Homo sapiens: one gene and its partners. The protein of the gene in region 4 purifies or fractionates together with the protein of the main gene of each other region. This does not show direct contact. Each region holds a gene or a part of one and is shown on either strand. Other genes may lie near its edges.

What was found.
Region 1: the proteins of RAB6B (region 4) and CHM purify together in Homo sapiens (co-immunoprecipitation; 3 studies listed by BioGRID and IntAct, with this or other methods). This does not show direct contact.
Region 2: the proteins of RAB6B (region 4) and OCRL purify together in Homo sapiens (affinity purification with mass spectrometry; 3 studies listed by BioGRID and IntAct, with this or other methods). This does not show direct contact.
Region 3: the proteins of RAB6B (region 4) and GDI2 purify together in Homo sapiens (affinity purification with mass spectrometry; 3 studies listed by BioGRID and IntAct, with this or other methods). This does not show direct contact.

Annotation. Positions count from the first base shown.
Region 1 is NC_000023.11:85,862,549-85,869,575, forward strand, and holds part of CHM (rab proteins geranylgeranyltransferase component A 1), read right to left. Parts: intron 2,274-7,027; coding exon 2,082-2,273; 3' UTR 1-2,081. UniProt on the Homo sapiens protein: Substrate-binding subunit of the Rab geranylgeranyltransferase (GGTase) complex.
Region 2 is NC_000023.11:129,557,242-129,564,268, reverse strand, and holds part of OCRL (inositol polyphosphate 5-phosphatase OCRL), read right to left. Parts: intron 6,945-7,027; coding exon 6,834-6,944; intron 6,409-6,833; coding exon 6,319-6,408; intron 5,637-6,318; coding exon 5,516-5,636; intron 5,430-5,515; coding exon 5,268-5,429; intron 3,720-5,267; coding exon 3,618-3,719; intron 3,091-3,617; coding exon 2,976-3,090; intron 1,886-2,975; coding exon 1,769-1,885; intron 1,671-1,768; coding exon 1,483-1,670; intron 1-1,482. UniProt on the Homo sapiens protein: Catalyzes the hydrolysis of the 5-position phosphate of phosphatidylinositol 4,5-bisphosphate (PtdIns(4,5)P2) and phosphatidylinositol-3,4,5-bisphosphate (PtdIns(3,4,5)P3), with the greatest catalytic activity towards PtdIns(4,5)P2.
Region 3 is NC_000010.11:5,810,421-5,817,911, reverse strand, and holds the start of GDI2 (rab GDP dissociation inhibitor beta), read left to right. Parts: upstream 1-4,477; 5' UTR 4,478-4,653; coding exon 4,654-4,698; intron 4,699-4,714; exon of another isoform or gene 4,715-5,597; intron 5,598-5,955; exon of another isoform or gene 5,956-7,491. UniProt on the Homo sapiens protein: GDP-dissociation inhibitor preventing the GDP to GTP exchange of most Rab proteins. By keeping these small GTPases in their inactive GDP-bound form regulates intracellular membrane trafficking.
Region 4 is NC_000003.12:133,823,726-133,829,900, forward strand, and holds the end of RAB6B (ras-related protein Rab-6B), read right to left. Parts: intron 5,128-6,175; coding exon 5,063-5,127; 3' UTR 510-5,062; downstream 1-509. UniProt on the Homo sapiens protein: The small GTPases Rab are key regulators of intracellular membrane trafficking, from the formation of transport vesicles to their fusion with membranes. Rabs cycle between active GTP-bound and inactive GDP-bound states.

The DNA of each region.
Region 1 (7,027 bases), on a different chromosome or scaffold from region 4:
TGACAAAGTAGGTTATAATGTGATCCTACTGTCCCTGATTTGTGTGACATTATAAAAGGGGAAGTGAGGGAAAGGGGACTAAAGAGATGGGGAGGGGCTGTACACTGGGAGGTAGGGATAGGAGCAGCCTGAGAGGCTAGTAAGTTAAGTTCTTCCATTACTCTGGCTTGAACTATATCTGCAGTGGGTAGAAAGGTGAGGCAAGAGCTATATTCCTTGGTTCTTTCCATTTCCCATGAATCTGTGACCTGCCACAGCTGGCTTCCTTTAAGAACATCTCTGAAACCTGGTGAGGTCAGGGACCAGCTGCAGTTGAAGTATGTAAGAACTATGTACTTTACATTGGAGCCATGGCTTCCTGACAGACAATATAGGCCAGATGTTGTGAGAAAAAAAAACAAATAGTTCATTTGTTTGTTTATTTATAGGCAATTATAAGTCTCAACTATTGCTCAAATAAAGTAGACCATCAGAGCTTGGCCATTTGAGAAAATTTAAATATAGGCAACATCACTGCAGCTTAGTTTGCTGCCTATGTACAGCCCCCTTTTTTTTTTTTTGTGAGACAGAGTCTTGCTCTGTCACCCAGGCTGGAGTGCAGTGGCAAAATCTTGGCTCACTGCAACCTCCGCCTCCCTGGTTCAAGTGAGTCTGCTACCTCATCTTCAAAGTAGCTGGGATTACAGGTGCCCACCATAACACCCAGCTAAAATTTTGTATTTTTAGTAGAGACAGGGTTTCGCCATGTTGGCCAGGCTGGTCTCGAACTCCTGACCTCAAGTGATCTACCCACCTCAGCTTCCCAAAGTGCTGGGATTACAGGCAGCCCTAACGTTTTTATGTAGTGTATATTAGGGCTTACCAACTGTCATACACAATTTGGAGTCCTTGGTGGTTGCAGGTTTACCTACCAGAAAAGGAATAAAACAATTTATAGAGTGTTTTCCTTAGTAATATTTCAAAACCACAATTCTACTTGTTACTATTTTTACTGGTCTGTAAGACTATAAAATACTACTTTAAAAAAGAAATTTTCATTTAAAAAGCTTAATGCAATAAAAACACTGTGATCTATTTTGTTTGGAAGTTGACTGACAGCAAGCAATTATTTCCTGCGTGAGACTTTTGAGATTCATCAAGTCAATGGGAAAATTCTAAAACAATTTTCTTCTGGCAAACCGATTCTAAACATGGCATTGCATTGTCTTCATAACCATTCTCATATAGTAGGCATAGTAATACTATTTCCACTTTATATATGGAGAAACGTAGGCTCAGAAGTTAAACAATTTACCAAATATCATCAGTAGGACAGCCAGGATTAAATTAGGTCTGTAGACAATTAGCCTAATACTCTAGTTACTTGACAGACAGAATATTCAAATACCAATGAGCCTATCCACACCTTTCCTTCCATTCTTTCATTTCTTCATTATTGACCTTTCCCAATATGTAAATAATTTACAAACAAATATCACTACTGATACTAAAAAACACTACTGACTTATTCGTAAAAATGTCTAAACACCTTTATATTAGCATTTTCAATGCTTCTCAACATAGAAAGCAAAACAAACCTGTATTCCAAATACAGGCTTCTATCTAGATCATGATACTTTAGTTTTTCTATATGTTTTTATCATTATGTTATGATGCTCTTGTCCATAAAGAAAATAAAATTCAAATAACCAAAGAAAATACATGAGCTGGTTCTGAAAATGTGGCTTTCAAACAAAGATCCAAAGTGGTAAGCAAAATTGTCCTAAGACCATGGAATTATTAACAATGCATAGGATCACTTTCATATCCACAGTTACATTCCTGAGAATCAATTGATTTATAATTTTCATCTGCTAGTCACACAAGTTTGGTATTTAAAATGAGCAAGTCAATGTGCTTTATAAGTGTTGTGTGTTCTTGGAATGTCCTCTATAAGGAAAATCCCCTTTTGGATTTCTATTACCTATTTTGCCTTATAATTGCTGCTGCTTTCTAACATTTCTCAAACAGTCCTTCTATCAAGTAGACTCTGAGACCAGTCAGAATTTCCAAAGTTGGGTATCCAGTTTGGTGTATATCCATTATTCAGAGGACTCCTCTAGGTTTCCAAGGTTTGTGCTTTCCTTGAAAGTCTCCGAGTTAGCCTCTGGTATGGCACTGGATTCTGAAGCCTCTGGCTGTAAACTGTCTCCATCAAGGATAATGTCTTCAGGATTTGGTGGAGGGGGACAGAAATCTTCATTGGGGCAGATTTCCTGGAAAAGTGTTTCAGCCTGGCCAAGGAAGAAAAGATAAAATCGTTTTTGGAAATCGGTTTAAAATGTGTGTGCATTTCTGGCATTAACTAAAAAAAAATAAGTGTTTTATCCTTAAAAATTTGCTTAAACAGGCTACAGTACTTAATCAGAATACATGAACTTCCGTAAGTCTGTTTTCAGAATTCTATGACTTCTCCCTTTAATTCTATACATGTATTGAGGTCCACTCTTCAAGGATGGCAGTACCTCATCAGGTTCATTATCAAGTGTTCAGATTGTTGAGAACTGAAATACATTCATTCTATATATCAATAGAAATACAATTTCCTTAATATTGTTTATATGATTTCTTATAGAGCCTTGATATGGTTTGGTTCTGAGTCCTCACCCAAATCTCATCTCAAATTGTTATCCCCACGTGTTAGGGGGTGACTAGATTATGGGGGCGGCTGTTCCCATGTTGTTCTTGTGATAGTGAGTTCTCAGAATATCTGATGGTTTAAAAGTATTTAGCAGTTCCCCCTTTTCTCTTTCTCCTGCCACCATGTGAGATGTGCCTTGCTTCCCCTTCACCCTCTGCTATGATTGTAACTTTCCTGAGGCCTCCCCAGCCATGTGGCCTTGTGAGTTAAACCTTTTTTGTTTACAAATTACCTAGTCTCAGGTAGTATCTTTATGGCAGTGTAAGAGGCACTAGCATTGAGAATTGGTACCAGGAGTGGGGTACTGCTAAAAGATAACCTGAAAATGTGGAAGTGACTATGGAATTGGGTAACAGGCAGAGGTTAGAACAGTTTGGAGGGCTCAGAAGAAGAGAGGTAAATGTGGGAAAATTTGGAACTTTCTAGAGACTTGTTGAATGGTTTTGGCCAAAATGCTGATAGTGATATGAACAATGATGTCCAGGCTGAGGTGGCCTCAGATGGAGATGAGGAACTTATTGGGAACTGGAGCAAAGGTGACTCTTGCTATGCTTTAGCAAAGAGACTAGTAGCATTTTCTCCCTGCCCTAGAGATCTGTGAAACTTTGAACTTGAGAAAGATGATTTAGGGTATGTGGCAGAAAAAATTTCTAAGCAGCAAAGCATTCAAGAGGTGACCCAGCTGATTCTGAAAGCACTCAGTCATGTGTGTTCACAAAGAGATGCCTTCACATTGGAACTTATGTTTAAAAGGGAAGCAGAGCATAAAGGTTTGGAAAATTTGCAGTCTGACCATGTGGGAGAAAAGAAAAAACCATTTTCTGGGGAGGAATTCAAGCTGGCTATAGCAATTTGCATGAGCAATGATGAGCCAAATGTCAATAGACAAGACAATGGGGAAAATGTCTCCAGGGCATGTCAGAGATCTTCCCTAGGAGGAAAAATGGTTTAGTGGGCTGGGTGGGCCCCACTGCTCTGTGCAGCCCTGGAACATGGTACCCTACATCCCAGCTGCTCCAGCTCCAGCCATGGCTAAAAGGAATAAAGGTACAGCTTGGGCTGTTGCTTCAGAGGGTGCAAGCCCCGAGCGTTGCCAGCTTCCACGTGATGTTGGGCCTGAGGGTGCACAAAAGACAAGAGGTGAGGTTTGGGAGCTTCTGCATAGATTTCAGAGGATGTTAGGAAACGCCTAGATGGCCAGGCAGAAGTCTGCTGCAGGGGTAGAGCCCTCATGGAGAACCTCTGCTAGGGCAGTGCTGAAGGGAAATGTGGGCTTGGAGCCCCCACAAAGAGTCACCACTAGGGAACTGTTTAGTGGAGCTGTAAGAAGAGGGCCACTGTCCTCTAGACCCCAGAATGGTAGCTCCACTGACAGCCTGCACCATGCACCTGGAAAAGTCACAGGCACTCAATGCCAGCCCATGAAAGCAGGCACAGTGCCTATCCCCTGCAGAGCCACAGGGTTGGAACTGCCCAAGGCTGTGGGAGCCTAGCCCTTGTATCAGCATGGCCTGGATGTGAGACATGGAGTCAAAGGAGATTTTGGAGCTTTAAGATTTAATGACTGCCCGGCTGGGTTTTGGACTTGCATGGGGCCTATGGCCCCTTTGTTTTGTCCAATTTCTCCCATTTGGAATGGGGACATTTACCCAATGCCTATACCCCATCGTATCTTGGAAGTAACTAACTTGCTTTTGATTTTACAGGTTCATAGGCAGAAGGGACTTGACTTGTCTCAGATGAGACTTTGGACGTGGACTTTTGAGTTAATGCTGGAATGAGTTTTAAGACTTTGGAGGGCTGTTGGGAAGGGATGATTGGTTTTGAAATGTGAAAAGGACATGAGATTTGGGAAGGGTCGGGGCAGAATGATATGGTTTGGCTCTATGTCCCTACCCAAATCTCATTTGCAATTGTAATCCACAAGTATTAGGGAGGGACTGGTGGGAGATGAATGGATTATGGGGGCACTTTTCCCCATGCTGTCCTCGTGATAGTGACTTCTCACAAGATCTGATGGTTTAAAAGTGTTTGGCAGTTCCCTCTTTGCTTTCTTTGCTCTCCTGCCGCCATGTAAGACATGCCTTGCTTCCCCTTTGCCTTCCACCCTGATTTTACATTTCCTTAGGCCTCCCCAGCTATGAGGAACTGTCAGTCAATTAAACCTCTTTTGTTTATAAATTACAGTCTCAGGTGGTATCTTTATAGCAGTGTGAGGACAGACTAATACAAGCCCACATGTGATACTGGTATAGTCTAATTTAGCATATAGTAATTTTAACAAGTCACTGTTCAAATGAAGAAAACTCTTCACTGTTTGTTCAACTATTTGCTTTTTGATAGAATTTCCATTCCCTGGACTTTAAGGACTATAGCACTTGTTTAAGCTCATGGGTTTTGAAAAGATAGCCTCAGTAAAAATACTGGCTCTACGATTTAGCAGTTATGTGATTTGGGGAATGCTTTCTCAATTTCCGAGCTTTGGCTTCCTTATCTATAAAATATCAGAGATTAAGCCGACATATATGGTAGCTATTTTCATTATTACTAATAATAACATAAGTAAAAATGTCAAGATTTAAGCTGAACTTATTAGTATGACAGGGTAACAGAATAAAAAACCTTCAAGGGTATGTTCTTGGACATGCCAATTACTATAGACAATTTAAGTTTTTAAATACTTAATTGACAAAAAGTATATATATTTAAGGTGTACAAGGTCACTTGATATACACTGTGTAATGATTACCACAATTAAGTTAACACGTCCATCACCACTAATAGTTACCACTGTGTGTGTGTGTGTGTGTGTGTGTGTGTGTGTGTTTGTAGTAAGAATACTTAAAATCTGCTCTCTTGTCAAATTTGAATTGAAGAATCCTGTCATTTATGACAAGATAAATGAACCTGGAGGACATTATGCTAAGTGAAATAAGCCAAGCACAGAAAGACAAATATCACATGATCTCACTTATATGTAGAATCTAAAAAAGTTGAGGGTGGTTGCCAGGGGCTGGGGAGTGTAGAGCTGTTGGTTTAAGGGTATGAACTTTCAGCTATAAGTTCTGGGGATCTAATGTACAGCATGGTAACTATAGCTAACTGCATTTTTTATTATGGCTATTTGGAAATTAAACATTACAGATGCCTGTCTTTGCTCTCCATCCCGGAGACTCACCATACTCCTTTGCTAGAGACACGCAACCCCTGTAGAAGCAGGACCTAGATCAGACAAAGCCATTACCTCATACTTCCGTTCCCCTAATGGTCTTTTTGTCTTACATCTCTGTTTTTACTATCTGTAAAAGTTCTCCCTCCCTTTTATCTTTGGCATGCAAACAATCATCAAATTCTATCAATTTTATCTTCTATCTCTTAACTTCATCTGTTCCTTCCCCACTGACATAGCCCAGACATGCACCATCTTTCAACTAGACAACTACAATAGCCTCAGAATTGGACTGGTCTCCTTGCCTCTAGAGTTCCCCCATATAATCCATCTCCATGCCATCCTCAGATGGGTCAATGGAAAATAAAATTCTGTTTATTCCATTTTTGGCTTAAAATTCTTCAATGACTCCCCATCACCAATAGGATAAAATCCAAGATTCCTACTATAGAAAATAAAACCCTTCAGGCCTACCTTCTCTGATCTTATCATATACCATTTCATCTAGCCTCCATCTCTCAGACTTCTTGATTTACTAATACCTGTTTATTTGTATGAAACAATACACCATGATATTTATCTTTTACATCCTGGACTGGTACCAATGTTATTCTTCACATCCAGAATGTTTCAATTCTACTGTCTTTGATTTAGATGGAGAATTGCTACTCTTCTGTTATACCCCTCTCCGTAAGGTTCTCTGACTCCTAGATTGGGCTCATTTCTCCTTTCTGTTATTTCTAGACTTTGGATATATTAGTACATACGCCACACTACACTGTCATTTGTTTACATGCTTTTCTCCTTTACCTGACAGTGATTCCTCCAGGATGACAAATACTTTTAGTCAACTCTGGATCCTTAGTGCCTTGGCATAAAATAGAATGTCAGTAACATTTAATACAAATATTAAGTATAAATATAATAATTATTATTACTACTAATTCTTTTACTTCTTCTATGCTAGTTCCTCTGTGTTTGACACCTTGTCTCCCTTTTGCCTCCTCCCCATAGAATAGCTTTTACCCTAAACTCCAGTCTCTGTGGCTGGATCCCACACCACATACTTCCATATATCTTGTCATGCACCACCTGCCTCCTAAGATTAGCACCAGTTGCAGGTTGTCACACCACTCTTTCTTGTGTTCTACCTGCTTATGAAACTCCCACCTATAGCC
Region 2 (7,027 bases), on a different chromosome or scaffold from region 4:
AACAGTGTAAAAGTGTTCCTATTTCTCCACATCCTCTCCAGCACCTGTTGTCTCCTGACTTTTTAATGATTGCCATTCTAACTGGTGTGAGATGGTATCTCATTGTGGTTTTGATTTGCGTTTCTCTGATGGCCAGTGATGGTGAGCATTTTTTCATGTGTTTTTTGGCTGCATAAATGTCTTCTTTTGAGAAGTGTCTGTTCATGTCCTTTGCCCACTTTTTGATGGGGTTGTTTTTTTCTTGTAAATTTGTTTGAGTTCATTGTAGATTCTGGATATTAGCCCTTTGTCAGATGAGTAGGTTGCGAAAATTTTCTCCCATTTTGTAGGTTGCCTGTTCACTCTGATGGTAGTTTCTTTTGCTGTGCAGAAGCTCTTTAGTTGAATTAGATCCCATTTGTCAATTTTGGCTTTTGTTGCCATTGCTTTTGGTGTTTTAGACATGAAGTCCTTGCCCATGCCTATGTCCTGAATGGTAATGCCTAGGTTTTCTTCTAGGGTTTTCATGGTTTTAGGTATATTAATTTCTTTAAAACTAATCATTTTCTACCACCACATCTACTCCTCAACACATCTCTGCTTCTATGCTTATTAAATCCCATTCTTCACTGACCTCTCTCTGCTGCCCCTGTTTTTAATAAGCACAGCCATTAAAAAGAATAATGTAGATCTATATATACTGGCTTGGAAAGGAATCCACAATAAATAGAATAATACAGTCTTATACACCAAGTACCTATGTGTGTGTTTGTATATGAATAGACAAAAGGCTAGAATAGTGCTATTTAATAGAATTATAATGCACCTCACAATATAATTTTAAGTTTTCTAGTAGCTGCATTTAAAAAGAAAAAAAACAAGTGAGTATCAATAAATTTCATTTTACTCAATATATCCAAATTATTTCAACATGTGATCAATATTTTAGAAATCAAGATATCGTACATCTTCTTCCTAAGTCTTTAAAATCCAATATATAGCTTATGCATACAGCATATCTTAATTTGGACCAGTCACTTTCAGGTACCTAACAGCCATATATGGCTACTGGTTGTCATATTGGACAGTACAGATCTAAAAGGCTACACACCCAACTGTTAAGAATGGTTTCCTTTGGAGAGAGGGACTGGCTAGGTAGAGAATAAGAAATGAGGAAATTTAACTTCTAATTTTATCTTTTATTACATTTGCAATGAATATTTCTATTTTATCATAAAAACAATAAAAACTGACTCCAACTACAGACCCTCCAGCATTATTCTAGGTGCCCCACTAATAGAACTATCTTTTCCTCTGATATCAAGTCTAATTTCTCTGCCTCAATGATTCTGTTATTACTCAAAAACCCTCTCCTTTGTGACCCCAATCCCTCACTGGTAATCTTTCACTCTTCACAGCTCTACAGTATCTCACATTTAATCTCTACACTATCCAAACTCCTGTAGCCACTACTCAAAGGCTACAGGTGAGTTAACCACTTACTCATGTTTCATGATGTTCAACTGCGGGAGGGTCTGATTTGGGACCACAAAACTCATTCTCGCACAAATGTCCTTATAATCTTGATTCCTTCTCTCAAAGTCCTCCACGTGTGCAGCCAGATGGGAATTGACAATGCAAAAGGTGGTGTTGTGAAATACAAATCTCACAGCTACCCCACCTTTGTTTCCCTGTTAGCAAGAGTAATTATTCAATTAGTACACAGAACAAGCAACTGAACTTTACATGAACATGAATAATAATCAAGCTCATTTCCAAAGTAACTCACCATTTTCCCCATGATTCCAGTTCCAACTGTTTCTGTAGCAATATCACGAATGTATCGACACTGATCCTTTCTGGCAAATATAAGAAGCATCATCCCAACAAGGCGCACCAGTTGAACCTATGAGTTCCGGGGAGTTACAAAAGGTTAATGTTAATACCAATCTTTGCCACATTTCTAATGTCCCACGACTAATTTTCCATCAAGATGATATACTAGTGCCCAAATCTGACTTCATATCCTCTAATTTCTCAGTGGACCCCGTCAAGTGGAAACTAATATTCTCTGGGGAGGCTCTAATCTGGCACTGACCAATAAGAGTTAAAAGCTGGGAGGGACAATGAGTACTTTCAGCTCTAGATCTATTCTTTTAATCACTTCTTAGCCTACCAGGAGTAAGCAGCATTAAAAGTTCAAATAATAAAGCCACTATCCCAGCTTGTTCCTTCCACCTTTCCTTCCTAGTTTCTGATGTCTAATTTTCTAAGAAATTGAAATCAACCAAACAGCAATCTTTTTTACTTATTTTTAACTTGTGAACTACAGCTAGAAATATGTCTGAGATATACATTAGTCAGGGACCTATATGAGAGGAATAACATCCCCAGGAGTTTTATTACCTATATAAACTGTTAGAAGATGTAGAGAAAAATTACTCACATTACTTCTTTTAGAGACCTTAGTATGATAGCCCTGTAATTAACTCTTCTGGTAGCTAAATGCCTTTACCACATACCTTCTAAAGACAAACAAATTGGCCCATCTTGCTAAAGTCAACTCTCCTCTTAACTTAAAACCAAGTTTAGAACTCGTTCAAATTCCACACCACTTCTATTCTTGCTCTGATTGCAACACATGCACCATGCGCCCACGTTTCATATTGCTTTTCTGTAAAGCATTCAATTCTGACCATGTCAGTGAGTAATCTAAATCTTATATGTAATTATTTCAAACTAAGTATTGATATAAGCATAATAAAATTCTTTTTTCCCCTAAAAGCTATCTAAGCAATGAAAATATAGTATCAGAAAGCTTAGGGATTTTTTTTTCTAGGAAATAAGGATGAATGATCAATCTGCCCTATCCCAGTATTACACACAGAGAAGAATTCAATTAAACTATTCTTTTGGAACAAGTTGTAGATAATGGAATAACTCCCGGTGAGCCCTATTTAGTCATACACTTAAAAAGATAATTAAATGCGGCTTACTTTCTTATACTTGGCTTTGGAATGCAAACCTCTCTCTACAGCCATGGACCATTCTTGTTCCTTCACAGATTCAAAGTAGAAGAAGGCTTCTGTGCTCAAGTCCAGTTCTTGGAATCTGAGGAAAAAAGGGATATGAGATCTATACATATCCCATAATTATCTCTGGCTACCTCCTGTCCCATATGTTGAAACATTAGATGAAAAAAAGATGGGAGAGAGATAAATTTTATAGAACTGCTCTGTTCACCCAGGTTATCAGTAAGAACAAGTAGCTTTCTTTTCTAAAGAATTCCCACAAGTACATTCATAAGCTATGCAAAAAATAAATCAAAATACCTCCCACAGAGGATAACAGCAGAGCTTTGCTCTTATATCCTAGGAACTGTCACTGTTAGAACTGACCCCAAGTCTTAGTTTCTATGCAGAATATATAGATTCCTACGGGTTTCAAGAAAATTAGATGCTTCCTTACACCATTTTAGGTATCTGTTCATTTCTGTTCTCACAAATTTGACCCGCAAGTTAACTCTCGTGTATAGTCTACAGTAGGTTTTACCAACAGTCTTTTTTAAAAAAGGCAAAACATCATGTAAATGAACACCAAACATATAGCCAAAAGGAAATTCCAGAAGTGTTCTTTACCCAATGCAGTAGATATCAGGAGGATTGGGATCACAGTTCAGCCAAGGTTCTAACCCGCTATCTGGAGACTGGCCATTCACATTCCAAGTTCCAACAAAAAATCTAATACATAATACGAAAAGATAATTTGAAAACAAAGATCAAGTATAAACCAACAGAAGTTCTTTCTTTTCGCTTCCATACAAAGGTATGTTCACAATATGCTAACATAATTCCTCAAAATGTTTTGCCACATATGTAAGAAAGATCTTTTGCATCTAGAACACAAAGGCAGTGGGCTTATTTTCTCTAAATTTTACATTAAGTAAAACTACAGAAGGAAACCAAGTCTTTATTTTTAAAAAATGCAAAGGTAATTGCTATACCACATTTCCTTTCAATTAAGCTCCATCCAAACTCATACTTGATAGGAGAGCTTATGGATGGGAAAGAGGTATCTTCATGCTGTAAGCTAGTCAAATATGGATAAATGTTCTATAAGGGGCTATAGTTGACTCCAGGAACTCACTTCCTGAAGGATTACAAGGACATCTGTGTAGGAAATTCTGATGAGGCAGACATAGTATTAAGGGGGAAAGCAGAAGGGAAAACTCATGACTGTCTTAACTGTTTACACACAAATATAAGCATAGTGGGGGATATGAGGAACTGCAAGTTTTAGCATAGGGATATAGTTATGACTGAATTAGAATAAATGAGGTATGACAGGATAGCAGATGGGACTAGAATCTTGGACTAGAAGGGTACATTCTGCTCATGAATAACAAAGAAATGTGGTGTTGCTTCATGCATTGGCGATACATGCCACATGGTACCTCACATGCAGCATACACACACAAGTCCAGAAAAAAGATGAAATAAAAAATAATACAGATAAAAGAACCCAAGATAGACCTCCCAATCAAGAGGACTGGGTGAAACTTTCTTTATTTACCAAAGTAAGTAAGTTAAGAGCTAGTGGTAATGATGGACTTTAATTTTCTAATATTGGCTGAAAAAAAAAAACTTAACAGGCCAGATATATAAACACGCTTGCTTATGGAATGTGCTAGGGGAAAATTCTCTAGTACATGTGACCTTGATTTGGTTCTCTAGGACTCAGTAGAGACATTAGTAGACATGGCATTATTAGTAGTTAGAAAATCCAAGGGAAGGCCAAGCACGGTGGCTCAAGCCTGTAATCCTAACACTTTGTGAGGCCAAGGCGGGTGGATTGCCTGAGCTCAGGAATTTGAGACCAGCCTGGGCAACCTGGTGAAACCCAGTCTCTATAAAAAACACAAATATTAGCTGGATGTGGTGGTGTGCACCTGTAGTTCCACCTACTTGCAGGGCTGGCGTGGGAGGATTGCTTACGACTGAGAGGTTGAGGCTACAGTAAGCCATGATCTATCTGCTCTCCAGCCTGGGTGACAAAGAGAGACCCTGACCCACACACACAAAAAAAGAAAATCCAAGGGAAACTGTAGCATCTGCATTATTTCTGATATGCATGTTATTGGCCAGCATAGAGACAGGAGCTTGAAACAGGCAACCATTCCTTTTTATCATATTTTGATTCTTAATTAGGCTAATGTCTTAAATATCAACAGGCCACTGTCTGTTATATATACTAACTTTTTAGACTCAGGAAGCAAAAGAGACACTAACCTGAAAGTCTGAATGTTGACATATTCTTTCTCTCGCTTTGCCAGGATATGTTTGATGAGACCCTCCCGCTGCCCAGATTGGGTATTTGGTACAAAGAGCTTCCGCATGGTGTTGGTCACTTTGGGCTGCTCCTTGTTAGAAGCTTCTTTTTCACGTGGAAGCCTAGCAAATAAATGAGAGATTCAAAAGTAAAATTGTTTAAACTATAATTCTCCTACAAGGCAAATATGTTTTCACATGGGACTTACATTTTATTCACTGAAAAGGGTGGAGGTGGGGGTTCCCGATGAATCCCAGTAGGCTGATTTTGTGAATTTATTTTCTTGTCCAAATTCATAGAAGAAAAATTGTCTTCAAATCCAAGAAGCCCTGAAAGACACAGACCCCAAAGTCAAACGGGGAAAAAATCTAACATCCAACATATCCAGGGTAACAGGGCTTTGATTTGATCACAATTTGATCAGTGGTATTACTAAACAGAAAACTATCATAAGGGTAGAAATTACTTGGATTGGAGTTCGAAGAAGCATACCTATCCCTGAAGCACTGATATACTAACTAGAACAATAGAAGTTTATAAGAACTTGGAACAGACTAGTAATAGCTAACATTTATTGAAGACTGAGCACAATGCCTGGTTGAGAGTAAGGGACTATATCATGATCTCACTTAATCATCACAAAAACTCCAAGAAGTAAGTACTATTAAAAATCTTCCCATATTACAGAAAGGAAAAGGGAAGTTCAGAGTTGTTGAGTAACTTGATGAAGGTTGTACAACTAGTAAGTTCTTGACTTGGGATTCAAATCCAGGCTGTCTGGCTCTCGAGCTTGTACTTTCTACCACCCTGCTAAGCTGGCTCCTGAACAGCTACCATGCTACAGGAAGGATAAGGAGTGAACACTGGTCAGTGGGCCTGGACTTGATAAAACTACTCTGCAGGAGAATGTGTCTGACATCAGCTTTAATCTACATCACCATATTTGGCCTGACAAAATCTACTGACTCTGCAATGACCATAGCAACAAGGAAACCAGGAACTTTTTAGTACCTGAAAAAACAGAAGGTTTGTCCTTAGTGTCTAATTTCTGGTACCAGCTAGATGAGTCCTTTTGCTCTGGAACAAGAAGCTGTGACTGAGCTAGAGAGATAAGGTTCATGGTCAGAAACTGGGAAGTCTTTCACTGAGTAGAATTTACTATAGCCAAAAGCCATTCTTTCAACATTCCTTATATGCAGGGGCCAGCACCATTTTTGGATACAGTGGAAGAAACTAAGGAAATGAGGGCAGCTCTGGGGTCATCTAGGGGCAGAAGGAGAATTATAGTCTATGGTAAGCTGTGCTTGCCATGACACTGAATATTCTGAAAACTTGCCTAGTGTCCTTAAAGCTGGGCAGATTTTTTCCCTAACCTATCCCTGTGTTCACTCCTGAAGAAAAAAAAATCAGCTATCAGGGCTTAAAGGGTGAGGTATTTTGCCAATGGCCACTTTCCTCTGTATCAGCATGTCAGAATTCCACTCCCGTTGAAATAGAAGAAAGAAAATCGCTGAGTCTTTAGTTACCTTTCTGAGCAGCAAGGACAGCTGAGAGGAACTTCAAACAGTGTTCCTCATCAGGGATTTCAAAGCGGCGCTCTCTGATCCAGTCCCCCTGAACCCGAATTTTGCAGCCACCTAAAAAGAATTGAAATCCATACATATACTGCTATGGGATAAAATGTTTTACTGGGATCATATTCTCAACTTATCAGGTTAAC
Region 3 (7,491 bases), on a different chromosome or scaffold from region 4:
CACTGCACTCTGGCCTGGGCAACAGAGTGAGACCCTGTCTTAAAAAAGAAAAAAGGAAACTAGTACCAATATCATCATATTCAGTCCTTGTTGATCTAGGGCTCAACTTCCAAGTCCCCTATTCATTTGTCAAATATTTACTCATCCTCTACTAGTTGCTCAGCCCTTTACTGGCTGTCCAGGCTTCATATCCCTGCCCCTATGGAGTTTACATCCAATTTGAAAAGCAAAGAACAAGTGAAGAAAATAATTACCCCCTCTAATAAGAGCAGTGAGAAACAAGCAGGGTACTGATAGAGAATGATGGTTGAGGGGAAAGCTGAGACCTAAGGAAGTGGAAAAAGTTAGCTGTATGAAGAAGTGCAGGGGGAAGTGAGGGGTGGTAGCCATGGAACCAAGAGTACAAAGGCCCTCGGGTGGTTGAAAGCTTGACCAGATTCTAGGAACCGAAACACATGCATGTTTGGGGTTTAATGATCAAGGAGCCAAGGAGCACTAAAAAATAGAGTTGGAGAGACATACAGAGGCTAGATTAAGGTATTAGGTCATATTTAAGGATTTACAATGTATCCCTTTTTTTTTTTTTTTTTTTTTTGAGATGGAGTCTTGCTCTGTCTCCCGGGCTGGAGTGCAGTGGCGCCATCTTGGCTCACTGCAACCTCTGCCTCCCAGGTTCCAGCAATTCTCCTGCCTCAGCCTCCTGAGTAGCTGGAATTACAGATGTGCACCACCACACCAGGCTAATTTTTGTATTTTTAGTAGAGACGGGGTTTCACCATGTTGGTCAGGCTGGTCTCGAACTCCTGACCTCAGGTGATCTGCCTCAGCCTCCCAAAGCACTGGGATTACAGGCGTTAGCCACCATGCCTGGCTAGGATCTACAATGTATTCTAAGTACAAAAGATATACAGAAGCCTGAACATGATCTGATGCGTGTTTTTAGAAGATAATGGACAGAACAGATAGGAGAAGAGGAAAAAGAGAGGGAAAAAAGCCTGTTGAGAAACTGCCACAGTGATGCAGGAGAGAAAAAGATGGTCTGGGCTGAGGTTCGCTCTCATTTTCTTTCCTTAGATTAAATCTCTCCTTTTCAAAGGGCAGATGGATGCTTAGTAAAAACAGATCAGCAAACAATTATTCCCATGTACCCAAGTATAAATAAGACTCCATGGATTCCTGCTTTGCATAAAGGTTTGAAATATTTTATTTTATTTTTTTTTTGAGACGGAGTCTGGCTCTGTCACTCAGGCTGGAGTGTAGTGGCGCGATCTTGGCTGACTGCAACCTCAGCCTCTCGGGTTCCACTGATTCTCCTGCCTGTCTCCCGAGTAGCTGGGACTACAGGCATGTGCCACCACACCTGGCTGATTTCAAGATTTGAAATATTTTAAAGATTGATGGTGTCCTGGTTTGATCTTGGGTTTTGGCACCAAAAAATAAAATTAAAAATAAAGATTGATGTTTACCACTCATCTTCACCAACCAACCTACTTCCCCTAAACCTAAGGTTTCACTGTAGCAGGAACTACCATCTGTGGCATGAGATCAACTCAACCAATTAGTGGCTTTCAAGCCTCTTCACCTTAAGCAGTATTTGTCATCTACAAGTTCCCTTGCAACTGGAATGGGTGGGGTGGAAGATCCAAGAAAAGCACAGAATTTTCTTTTTTTGAGACAGGGTTTTGCTCTGTTGCCCAGGCTAGAGTGCAGTGGCATCATCATGGCTTGACCTTCCTGGGCTCAAGTGATCCTCCCAGCTCAGCCTCCTGAGTAGCCAGGACTGCAGGCTCATGCCACCATGCCCAGCTGATTTTTTTTTTGAGACTGAGTCTCGCTTTGTCACCCAAGCTGGAGTGCAGTGGCACGATCTTGGCTCACTGCAACCTCTGCCTCCTGGGTTCAAGCAATTCTCTGCCTCAGACTCCTGAGTAGCTGGGATTACAGACGCCTGACACCACGCCCAACTAATTTTTGTAGTTTTCGTAGAGACGGGGTTTCACCATCTTGGGACGGGTTGGTCTTGAACTCCTGACCTCGTGATTCACCCGCCTTGGCCTCCCAAAGTGCTGGGATTACAAGCGTGAGCCACTGCACCCAGCCTGCCCAGTTTTTTTTTTTTTTTTTTTGAGACGGAGTCTCACTCTGTTGCCCAGGCGGGAGTGGAGTGGCGCGATCTCGGCTCACTTCAGCCTCCGTCTCCCGGGTTCAAGCGATTGCTCTGCCTCAGCTTCCCGGGTAGCTGGGACTACAGGCACGTGCCACCATGCCCGGCTAATTTTTGTATTTTTAGTAGAGATGGGGTTTCACCATATTGGCCAGGCTGGTCTCAAACTCCAAACTCCTGACCTTGTGATCCGCCTACCTCAGCCTCCCAAAGTGCTGGGATTACAGGCATCAATCACCGTGCCCGGCCTCCAGCTAATTTTTTTTATAGGGACAGTGTCTCTGTTACCTAGGCTCTACAGCACAGGCTGGTCCCAAGTGATTCTCCCATCTCCCACTCCTGGCCCCAAGTGATCCTCCCATCTCAGCCTCCCAAAGTGTTAGGATTACAGGTGTGAAGCACTGTGCCTGGCTCAGGTACAACATTTTAGATGCACTCAGTCCGTTAAGGCTTAGTCCAGGTTTGATTGTTATTGTCCTTCTGTTGGGCCATAGGGCCTGTACTGTGAACTAAAATGAACTTCAGTGTTAAGTAAGGAAGGGATCCTTATTAGCCTTAAATTCAATTCCCTTATCTCAGTGTCTTCAAGTTTCTCACAACTCTTGAGTATCGATAAAATAGTCTTCACCTAAAACATGGTTAACATAATTCAGTTGACATGCTTAAATTTCTCTTCAAGAGCCAGAGGCTGATGGCAATTGTGAAAAAAGCTCTTTATTGTTATTGCTAATAAAAAAAAAAGGGCCAATAGTCAGGTGTGGTGGCCTGTACCTCTTGTCCCTGCTACTGGGGAGACTGAGGTGGGAGGATGGCTTGAGCCCAGGAGATCAAGGCTGCAGTGAGGCATGATTACACCGCTGCACTCCAGCCTGGACGACAGGGTGAGATTGTCTCAGAAAAATAAAGAAAAAGGGTTATTTCATATTGGTTCAAAAATATAGGTAGTATGACCCCCTGATGACTTGAAGACAGAGCAACAGAAGGACCTTCTTTAGTCATCATTAGCTTAGCCAAAAGAAAAGTCAGTTACACTCACTGTTGCATAATCAGTTGTATGGTCAACTGTGCACTAATTCATTTGGTCACAAATATATACAATCAAATTAAGGTTGAATGTAAATTTAAACTTTACTTTTGCTTTCTTCTCCCCTCCCCCCCAGAAAGATCCATGGTCCAATATAACATATCTTCTTCAAGTATTTATGGGGTAAGAAACATTTTAAAAAGTTGTTACATTCTTTCCTCTATCTTAATGATTTAAATATGAGCAAGTTCGGTCTATCAAGGCAGGCTCTGAATAGCTACTATCGAGAAGTATTTGAGGAGTTCTTGAATGCCAAATCTTCATTGTCTGCTGACTCTGCAGATTTATCACGTGCTGAAAGCACAGGTTTTCCAACTGTCAACGTCTTTACGAAATTCACCTGCTTAGGCTTTCGTGGGGTCGGCCTCTTGGAGCTGAGAACACAGCTTCTGCTTACACCTGTGTCCTCAATGAAGCCAGAGATTCCTAAGAGAATTCTAGAAAAAGAGGAGCGGGGTAGAAGGCAAGCAAGGAACAGTTTCTAAGCTTAGGGCCTAAACCTTTGCATACAAGGATCAGCTACCACGTTTACAGCGGCTTTAAGTTACAGCCCTCGGTAGGTGCAGATCGGCTTCCCAATGAAACCTGGCTTTCACTTTCATCTCTGTTAAGGGTTACCTTTTCAAAAGAAGCCGCTTTTCCTCCTACCAATTTCCTAAAGCGCCCACCGGCAACGCACTAAACAAGGAGGGCACAGAGCGGGAAAAAGGACACGTGTGATTTCCGAACTCTTCCCGGCGGGCTCCGGGCCCCGGCAAGCCCAGCCCCGCGGGAGGAACCAAGGCCGCCACCCCCGAGAGGCAGCCCGGCCCGCGCTCCTCGCCCACGTGGCCGCCGCACGCGCCCGCTCAAAGTCCAAGGGCGGCGATCCGGCTCTGGGACCTTGGACCGAGCGAGCTCCCGCCCCGACGGCGGGAGTCAGAACGGTGGTGGCCAGCAGTCCCCGCCCGCGGCTCCGTGCACCTCCACCCCGGCCCGCGCGCCGCCTCCCGAACCACCGTGGCAGAGGCCGCAAGGGGAACCGGAAGCCAAAATGGCGACGCCCCGCCCTTTTCCTCTCGCGAGAGGCGGGGAAGGAAAAAAAGTTGTGCGAGCGACGGGGACGTAACCAATTAGAGTGCCGGGAGCGCCTGATTGGCGGCCCTCCCGGCGCCTGCAGGCCCCGCCCCGGCTGCGGAGGCTCAGTCACAGCCCTCCCCTCCTCGCTCCCTCCCCTCCTCTCCCCGCCCAGTTCTTCTCTTCCCGTCTGAGGTGGCGGTCGGTCTCGCCTTGTCGCCAGCTCCATTTTCCTCTCTTTCTCTTCCCCTTTCCTTCGCGCCCAAGAGCGCCTCCCAGCCTCGTAGGGTGGTCACGGAGCCCCTGCGCCTTTTCCTTGCTCGGGTCCTGCGTCCGCGCCTGCCCCGCCATGAATGAGGAGTACGACGTGATCGTGCTGGGCACCGGCCTGACGGTGGGCGCCAGGGCTGAGGGGCCGGGGCTGAGCAGCCGGGGCGGGCGCACCCCCGGCTCCTGCACGGCCCGCGGGTCGCAGCTCCTCGGGGGTCTCGTTCTGCCGTCAGCCGTAGTTTTCGGGACGGGAGTCGTGGCTAGGGGCGCGGGCGGGTTCAGGGGCGCCCCGCGTCCCGGGGCGAGCGGGCGGCTCCCAGTGTGAGGGGCAGGCGGGGAAATGGAGATGCGGGCCGTGAGGCTCGGGGCGGGGTGACGGCCGAGCCCGGCCTCTGCGCTTGCCCCCAGCGGAAGCGGAGGGGAGGGGAGAAGGCCGCCCGGGCCAAGGGTCCCGCTCCCCGGTTTGGGCCGGTGACCTCGCCCGGTTGGAAACCAGCACCCGAGGCGGAGGGGACGGTGCAGGCCTCGCGGTTGCATTTCCTATTCCGCCTCGGCCGCTGCCCCGGGTCAGTCTGGCTGCCAAAGCCGAGTACGGGGTTTCCTGACAAGTCTTGGATAATCACTGCTTCGGAACTGCTAGGGCTTGATTAACTTATATTTTTGGCGAAAACGTGGAAATTAGTCTTTTAATCCTTTCTCCCCCCTGCTAATGAGAAGTATTATTGAATCCTTTTAGCCACCCTCCCTTCTCACTTACTGAGCATCTGTAGAATTGGAATTGAGTTTTTTCAAAACTTGTCCGTCAAATGCTTTCGCACCTGACCTTCGCCGCCTTTTCCTTTTGTTTGGTGGGTTCTCTGCCTCCTTTGTCTCTTCTGGACTGTTTTCCCCTAAGAATTGGGTTGGTGATGGATTGCTAAAAGCCAAGTTCTCTGTACTCCGAAGCTTTCTTCAGGGAGTTGGAAGATAATAACATGAAGAATGCATTGTAATATATGAATGCAAGGTGTACCTAATATCATGGTATATTGATTTTCCTGGTTATCTGTTTCTAAGGGAACTTTAGGTAATCTGTAGATAACGCAGGCAGGTTCTGTAGTTTGTACTTTTTCTGTTCTTTTTTTTTTTTTTTTAAATGTTCATCTTGCAAAAGAATTCACTTTGGAGAAAACCATTTTAACTATCAATTTTTGGGGAAATTTGAAATTCTAACTTTGGGCTGCTTGATCATAATTAAGATGAATACTGATGTAAATCTTGTGTATCCTATGTACTCTGACTTCAAATTCCTGAGTCATTTAATGTAGACTTCCACTTCAAATTTTTTGAAATTTATTATAATCTCTCAGGGTCAAACCAATTTTTTTTTTTTTTTTTACAGGTAACATCCCAAAATAACACTTTTAGATGTCTCTAGGCAAGAGAAAACCTTCGAACTTTTATTTGGCTAATTTTTTAGGAAAGGTTTGTGAAGAATTAGAATCGTGTTTTTCTGGTCTGTCATTTTTCTGTTTATAGTTATATGCAATTATTAGAGAATATTCATTCTGAATACTTCGTTATGTTTGACCAATCCAGGAATAATCCTGTGTCTGTCTTTGAAAAGCTGGAAGACTGTTGGATGCCTAAATGAATAGGCCCTACCCACTGCAGGTTTTGTGCTTTTTTTTTTTTTTTTTTAAGTGCCTAATTGGGATTCCAAGCTGAGCTTAGTAGTTTGTGGTGGATTTTGCCTGTTGGAATGGGTAGTGTTGCTGCCAGCGTGTTTTAAGAGCCGGTTAGTTCCACCGTTTTTCTATGGTTGTTGCTGGTCTTTCAGATTTGCTCACAATTGAGGTCAGTTAAGCATGCACGAGTGAGTGCAAATCCACCATCATGCAGGCTTCCACAAGCCTCGTTCACATCACTTTGTATCAAAGATGGTGAAAGTGTTTTTATATAACAAGTTAAGATAATGAGCTTTGTTTAAATTTTCATTCGGATTGTGAACTCTTTGATGAATGGTAGATGCATACTTAACTAGAAATCAGACCTGTTTCTGCTGTCATTTTGTAGCTGTGATAACTTTAATCTCTGTGAGCCTTCCTAAGTTTTCTGAGATGTTCTTTGATAATTATATCAATTCAGGACAATCACATTATTACCATCATTGATAGGAGTAGTGATGACAGGATGATTTTGATAATGAGAAATCATATATCCTTATTTTTAGTGTTACCAGGAATTAGATGATTAAAAATTAGAAGAAGAGAAAACCAAAGTTAGCACTCAGAATTAACTTTTGAATGTCTGGAGTTAATTAATTTTCTTAAAATTTACTTTAGTGCCTGAGACTTAAGAACCTAAAAAAAGGCAAGTACTTTCAGTGTTAGGAACTTGTTACTTTTAAAGAAGTGTAAGGAAGTGCTGGAGTTGCTGTGTTGCTTAGTGCTGCCATTGTTTGTATGAGTTGTTAAGTCTAAGCTCATAATCACAAATATTGATAGTTATCTTAATCAAGAAGATACAAAACGATTTGGTATAAAGGAGTAAAATCTTCATTCTGTGTGTAAAAGAAATGGAATATTCCACACAATTGAATTTTCTGAGGAACTAAAGGTTATCTCTAAAGAGCACAGCTTTTGGATAATGCCTTTCTAAATGCTGTCACAACTTCTTTAACAAACTAAGAAACATAATTTACTTGATAACCAAGTTTTCACATAGTGAAGATTAACTATTGTGTTATGCTGTAACATGGTGAAGCCATGAAGACCCCGCCAGCTTTGTAGGAACTTTTGCCCCCTTTACTCTCAGGCTGCTATGCTTTTTGAGCTCTTCAGTTTACTCTTCATATTTTTTCCCTCTATCTTACTTTACTGTTAGGCTGGCAACATTTACTTTTCTCTGCTTTCAGCATGTGTAGGCAGCCTCTCAC
Region 4 (6,175 bases):
CCACTCAGGGATGTTCCTAACTGGTGTGGTGTGGGGCTGGGGATGGAATATGGCAGCTAGATGTTGTCAAAGGTCATTATAGTTCACCTTAAGTTCTTGCCTTTAAATGGCTTTCTGAAAATCACCAGAAGCATGAGAGATCCAGTCCCTGTACCCTCTCCCCCCTTCCTAATCCCCTAGCCATGGCAAGCAGAGTGGGGATGAAGGAATATATCGTACCCCTGACTCAGTTCTGCCTGGAGGCTCCCTTCCCATCAGCCTTTCAGCAGAATGGAGATTAGGGGAATGCGTGTGGATTTACTCTCATGAGTGTGTCCCATCTTTACCCCTTCGGAGTTGGTGGACAGCCCAACTCCACCAGTAGGAGGAAGAAGCAAAGCAGCAAAGGGCTTTAGGTAGTGGACATACCACCCAGGCATGACAAAAGGGACTCTGTGGAGCACACACTTCAGGAACTGTTTTTGAACCCCCCCATTTATGACTGCACCACTTAAACACAGACAAGAAGCTTTGTTTTGAGAATTAGGACAGTTTATTGTTTGACCAACATGCTGAGTCTTTTCCACATTTTACACAGTTTAATGTGAAATCAACATGGCGGCTATGTCTTCTGAGCCCATAACAGATGGAATTGCCACCCTCTGTGCTCCTCACAGCCAATCACTTTAAAGGGATGGGTGAGGGGAAAGTGAGGGGAGAAGTGGACACACACCGCGAGATGCAGGCTGGCCTTCAATGCTATGGAGGCTTCCCACCTCCTGAAGGAACCATCTAAACCCCTGCTGCAAGGATTTCCTGATGAAACCACACACTGCTGGGAGTGCCAACCAGACAGGGGTCTGGAGTCCAAGGAGTTTGCACATTGAGATCCCAAGGTTTTGGAACACCTAAATAGTTCATGTCAAACAAAAATTCAAAGGGTGTCCTGATCTGTGTGGGTGCCCATGACAATCAATCAGAGTAGACTTGGGGACTGGCCCTTGTGCAGTAGAGGAGCCCAAAATACCACCAATATTCTCACTCATATGCTGGGAAGAACCTAGTGTCCTAACCAAAAAGAGTAGAGATGGTCTGAGGAACACACCCACACACAGCAGTCCTTGCTGTGTAATAAATATGGAGTCACATTTGTTCACACACAGGGCAGCAATGGATGAAAAATGGAAACTTCACTGGTTCTGATCACTCCTAACTTGCTGGGTGATCTTAATAAGCAAGTTGCCCTTCTCCATCCTGGTTTTCCTGCCTGTAGACAGGAAAAGTTGTGACAGCTCTGCTTCACATAGCTGTAACAAGGTGACAATGCCTCACATTCTTTGGGGAGAGGCAGTTCGGAAACGAGTGTGCGCACAATCTGCTCGGTTGATGCACACAGACATCCTTCTGTTCAGCTGCCCCTCAAGTGGCTCAGACATGCCTCACTGTCCTCGGCTACCTGGTCCCATCTCATCCTGACATCCTCACCTGCCTTCCATCTTGTGAAGGAATGAGGCTGCTCTACCTGCAGGATGCTGAAGCCAGGAGGGCCATCCCTTTATTGTCACAACTGGTATCCCAGGGCAGGGCCTCCCCGCACTGGCTAGCCACCAGGATGATGCAGACGTTGCACCCCAGATGTGTCTGCACTCTTAACTACCACCATTTCAATCCTTGTTTCTGTTGCCAGAGATACTGAAACTGGTCTGGCCATTGCTCCCCTCAGACCTGGGAACATGACTGAATGTTTAAGGATGACAAGAAGAGAGCAGCGATAGATAGCAAGGAGGCCTCTGACCAAGGGAAACTGCTGCCAACAGCTACCAAGCCAACTAGCCTTGGATCACACAACTGCAGCCATGGTGCTCATGATTCTGATGTCACACCTTCATGTTGATGTATGTATGATCACCCAGCAAGTTAGGAGTGATCAGAACCAATGTGTTTCCACTTGTAAATAGGCTGTTTGCTTTTTCCATCTTACACTCAACTTTCCTGATGCCTGCAGAACAGGAGCTTTGTTGATAAGCTTTTAAGATTCACCCCCTTCACTCCCACCATCCCCAAAAAAGAAGGCCAAGAGGATCCTGCTAATCTGCCAGGTCACGTCTAGTCTTTGGGGAGAGGGACTGAATTGCTCAATTGAGAACATTTCCTCAAAGGAATCCTCCAATTTGCCCTCTGCTAACCCATCTGGATTCAGCAAAGATGCAATGCTCTTGCTGGGGTGCTGAGGCAATGCCATGACATCTTCTTCAAGAGCACCTAACAGTTTATTATGGAACCTTAACTCTGTGCCAATTCTACCTGCAAGCAAGGGGACAGGGATGGTGCCTGCTCAAGACAAAAATCAGGGAACCAACAACTTCTGAAAAAGAGGTCTGGCTGCCTTTCCACACCCCAGGAAGGGAGGGGCGGAAACCGCACGTGCCGAAGGGAGCGCCATGGAACCACTGAGATGGGAGGATGGGAGGAAGCCACCCTCAGCCTCAGAGGCCAAGGGGCTGGGGAGAACCCAAACTCAAAGAGAGGATGTTGTGTGCATGCTAGGAAAGGCAGGACTCACTAAGGCCATGTCAAACCAAATGCTATCTTTTACTGCTCCTCTAGGCCAGGATGGAAACACAGTCCACGGTGCCTTGGATGTGTGTGCCCCTGAGAAGGGAACTGAGTTTCTACTGTTTTATGGGATGTTTTTTTAAAAAAGCTAATCTTTAGTGCCAAGAAAATAAAAATCTACCATACGTTCATTCACTGAGACCCAGTGCAGATTCCTGTAAATGGGGCGGTCTCAGAGGCCACAGGTGATGGCCCCCGCTGCCAACCAGGCAGGACACTGTCATGTGGACTCCTGTAAATTCTCTCGAGGTAAGTAAGCACTCTTCCAACAAGCACCACTTGGGGGTGTGCCCATGGTGGGGGGACACTGGCCCACACAGGCATGCACACCCGTGCATATAAAGTACATAGAGAAATGGTGGAGATATTCCCGTGGGCTATGTTTGCCTGTAGTTTAACACAACTATGCATTATTTTATTGATGGCAAGACAATCACAAGTTATTTGACAATATTAAGTATTTCTTATTTCAACACGTTGCAGTACTTTTGAATTTCCAAAACTTATCACAATGCAAGTTCCAACTTGAGAGCAGGAGAAACAAGAATATACATTGAGCACATGTATCTCCGTGAGGATGTGTTTGTGGAAGGTGTATACACAAGTCTATCTCTATATATAATTATGTACACACATATAAAAACTAAACACATGACATCTGAAACACGTTCAAACATTGGTCCTTGCCTTCTGCAAGAGGTGCTCAGTGGGATCCTGCTTCCTCTCTTCTTCACCTGAAGATAAATTCCTTGCTAGAGATGAGCTCTGGCATACAGCCTCCTAGGCAGAGGGTGTGTGGCAGGCCCACTGCACAAATATCAGTCCTGCCAGATTCTGCTGCACTTACTGCCTGCCATTTCAGATTAATTTCTGAGAAGTTTCAAAATTCATTCCAACGACCTTGTGGAGTTCAGCCCACCATACCCCAGATGGTCATTCATCCCATCTATGACATGCCCAGCAGCAGCCTGGAGGGAGAGCCAATGACAGCAGGGAGGGTGGGGTTTACATTTTGGCCAGACTCACTGCCCATTGCACCTGGCTCTGTGCAGGCTCAGGGCAGTGAGTCTGAGTCTATTTGGAATGCTGGCCAAGTAGGTTATATCACTTAGTGGGAAGAGAGAGTTCTCTTCAGAGACTTTGCAGATTCTCAGGACTAAGCCATTCTCAGGAATGAATCAAAAATGGAAGAGATGGCTCTCTGGGGGCAAGCAGCCTTCTGGAGACCCCACCTGAACCACATCCTCAGGTGACCACAGCGCAGCCACAGTAGCCACAAAGATATGTCCACAAAGACTTCAACTGCGCCATGCCACTGGGGTGAAAACATAGCAACAAATCAGCTTTTCCAGAAAGCACTCAACAATATTAGCAGCTGAGGCTCTAAGAACATGGATCTTTCAAGGTGGTGGTTCTGCAGACAACACCCCCCCCCCCCCCCGCCTCCCCATCACAGAGGATCAACTCCAGGTGGTCCAGCTTCCCTGACATCCAGGAGGAAGGCTTCAGGATGGCACACTGCCCAACATCACACACTGAGTTTCTTAGACTTGGCCCAGGCATGTGTACTGACTGCTGGGTGGGCTGGTTAAAATATTTTCAGAAGTACACATGGCACCCCAGTCTATAAACCACGCACCACGCAGCTGCAATTGCCAACAGCACCTCGTCCTTCTGATGGCCTCTTGCTCTGCCAGTCCCTGAGGGCACAGAGAACACAAGGTTGCCTGTACCCTCAACCCCCTTCAAGGCTTTTCAGGGAAAGAGAAGGAGAGGTGGGAGCAGTTCCTCTGGGGGCTGCTGCCGGGCTGCCTAGAGCCCACAGACCTTGGTCTCAGCTCCACACGAGGTTGACGACCCACTCTGGCCATGGAAAGACAAGAGTCAGAGCTACCTTTTCAGAGGCTGATGTGTTCAACCAATGTTTGATTTAACTGGAGTAGGGCCTAGAGAGTGGGGCCAGATGGCCCCAGACTGAAGCCTAATTAATTTGCTCAGTTAATTGTTTTAATTTATTGGGCTGGGGATAGGAGGAAGGCAGAGGTGATGAATGGTTCAAAGAGAACAGGAAGGAGGAGGTGTGTGGAAAAGGTTCTCTATAAGTTTACAAATATACAAAAACAAAAAGCACATCTTTCAAATAAAAATGACTACATTTTTATCTGGCAAAAAATTGTATACACATGATTTAAATTTTTTTTAAATTTTAACAGTTTTTGGCAATCTTAATAAAGTACAATATATTACAACCAAACCAAAAAATAGTTGTTTAAGTAACAGCCGTTAAGAGTGATGTGATCCCTGATGCCCAGCCTCCCTCCCCATCCCACCCTACTCCTAAAGACAGAGAGAAAAGAAAAATCCTCCCATCTTGATAACTCGGTTCCCTCCCCCCTTAGGAAGCTAGCCAATAGGAAGCAACACAACAAGCAAGGAGTGTCATGGGAAGCCACAGGTCGGCTCTGCATTAGCAGGAGCAGCCGCCCTCGCTGGCCGGGGGCTCCTGGGGTTTGTCCAGCTTGATGTCGATCACTGCAGGGGGACGGGCTAAGGAAGATGACTCTCCTGGACAAGCTGCCACCCCACTTAGCCCTGTGCACTGTACCCTTTGGCTACTGCTCTGTTTCTCTGCAAACACCTAGGGACTTGGCTCTTGGTTTGGCTGGGCTAGGAAGGATGCAATACCAACTCCACCTTGCCTCCTCTTCCCTTCACCCGTCCACTTCCCCCAGCGCCTGTCCACCCAAGCAAAGCCTGTCTTGCCTGGGCCGTGGGATCACCATCTATACCAAGGCCAGGGAGTCCCTTTCCCAGAAGCCTTCCCTCGACCAGTGCTCAAATGCCAGCTCCCAGCCCTGGCCTCAGCCCAGTTACCTGTCAGCCCCACTCAAAGTGCAATGGAGATGAAGAGCCTGCTGGGTTCACATCTCAAAGCACAGGGGTATGTGGGCCTTGCCTAATTGGCAGCAGGAGCAAACCCTTCAAGCTTTAGTCAGAACACATCACTTAGATCCTGAGGATGGTTACTGTAAGAAGCCACATCCATGGGGCCTAAGCACAGCCCCCTCGCCAGCCCTTTCCACTGGTGCCCCCGGGGGCTGTGGGCTAAAGAAGCACTTATCAGAACCACCACAGGGACTGGTTCCAAATGCACAGCCAGGCTGGCCCTCTGCCTTCCTCATCGGGCTCAAAACCAACACTGTGAGATTTTAGCCTTGCATCAAACCAGACCTAATTATAGCTGAGGATCAGGCCCTTTGATACCTCACAGAATTGCTCTTCCTGGACAGGGATTGCCTTAAGACAGGGGTGTGTGGGGTGTGGTGGTATAAGAAACACTGTTTTGGAACTTCTTGCTGGCATCCTAAGGATGCTTTTGTGGCTCCTATTTGAGGACAACAGGAGAGGTTCTTTTGTTTTAAGTACTATGAAAAGCCATGCTTCTCCTGAAGTTCACATTCTCTTTCCTTGCCTTGGCTGTGAGGATGCTCAGAGCCAACTTTTTGGCCACCTCTAACAACCATGCGGCCATGGCATACATTTTGAGTATGACTTTATCTCTGACTTTTCTTTGCTTTTC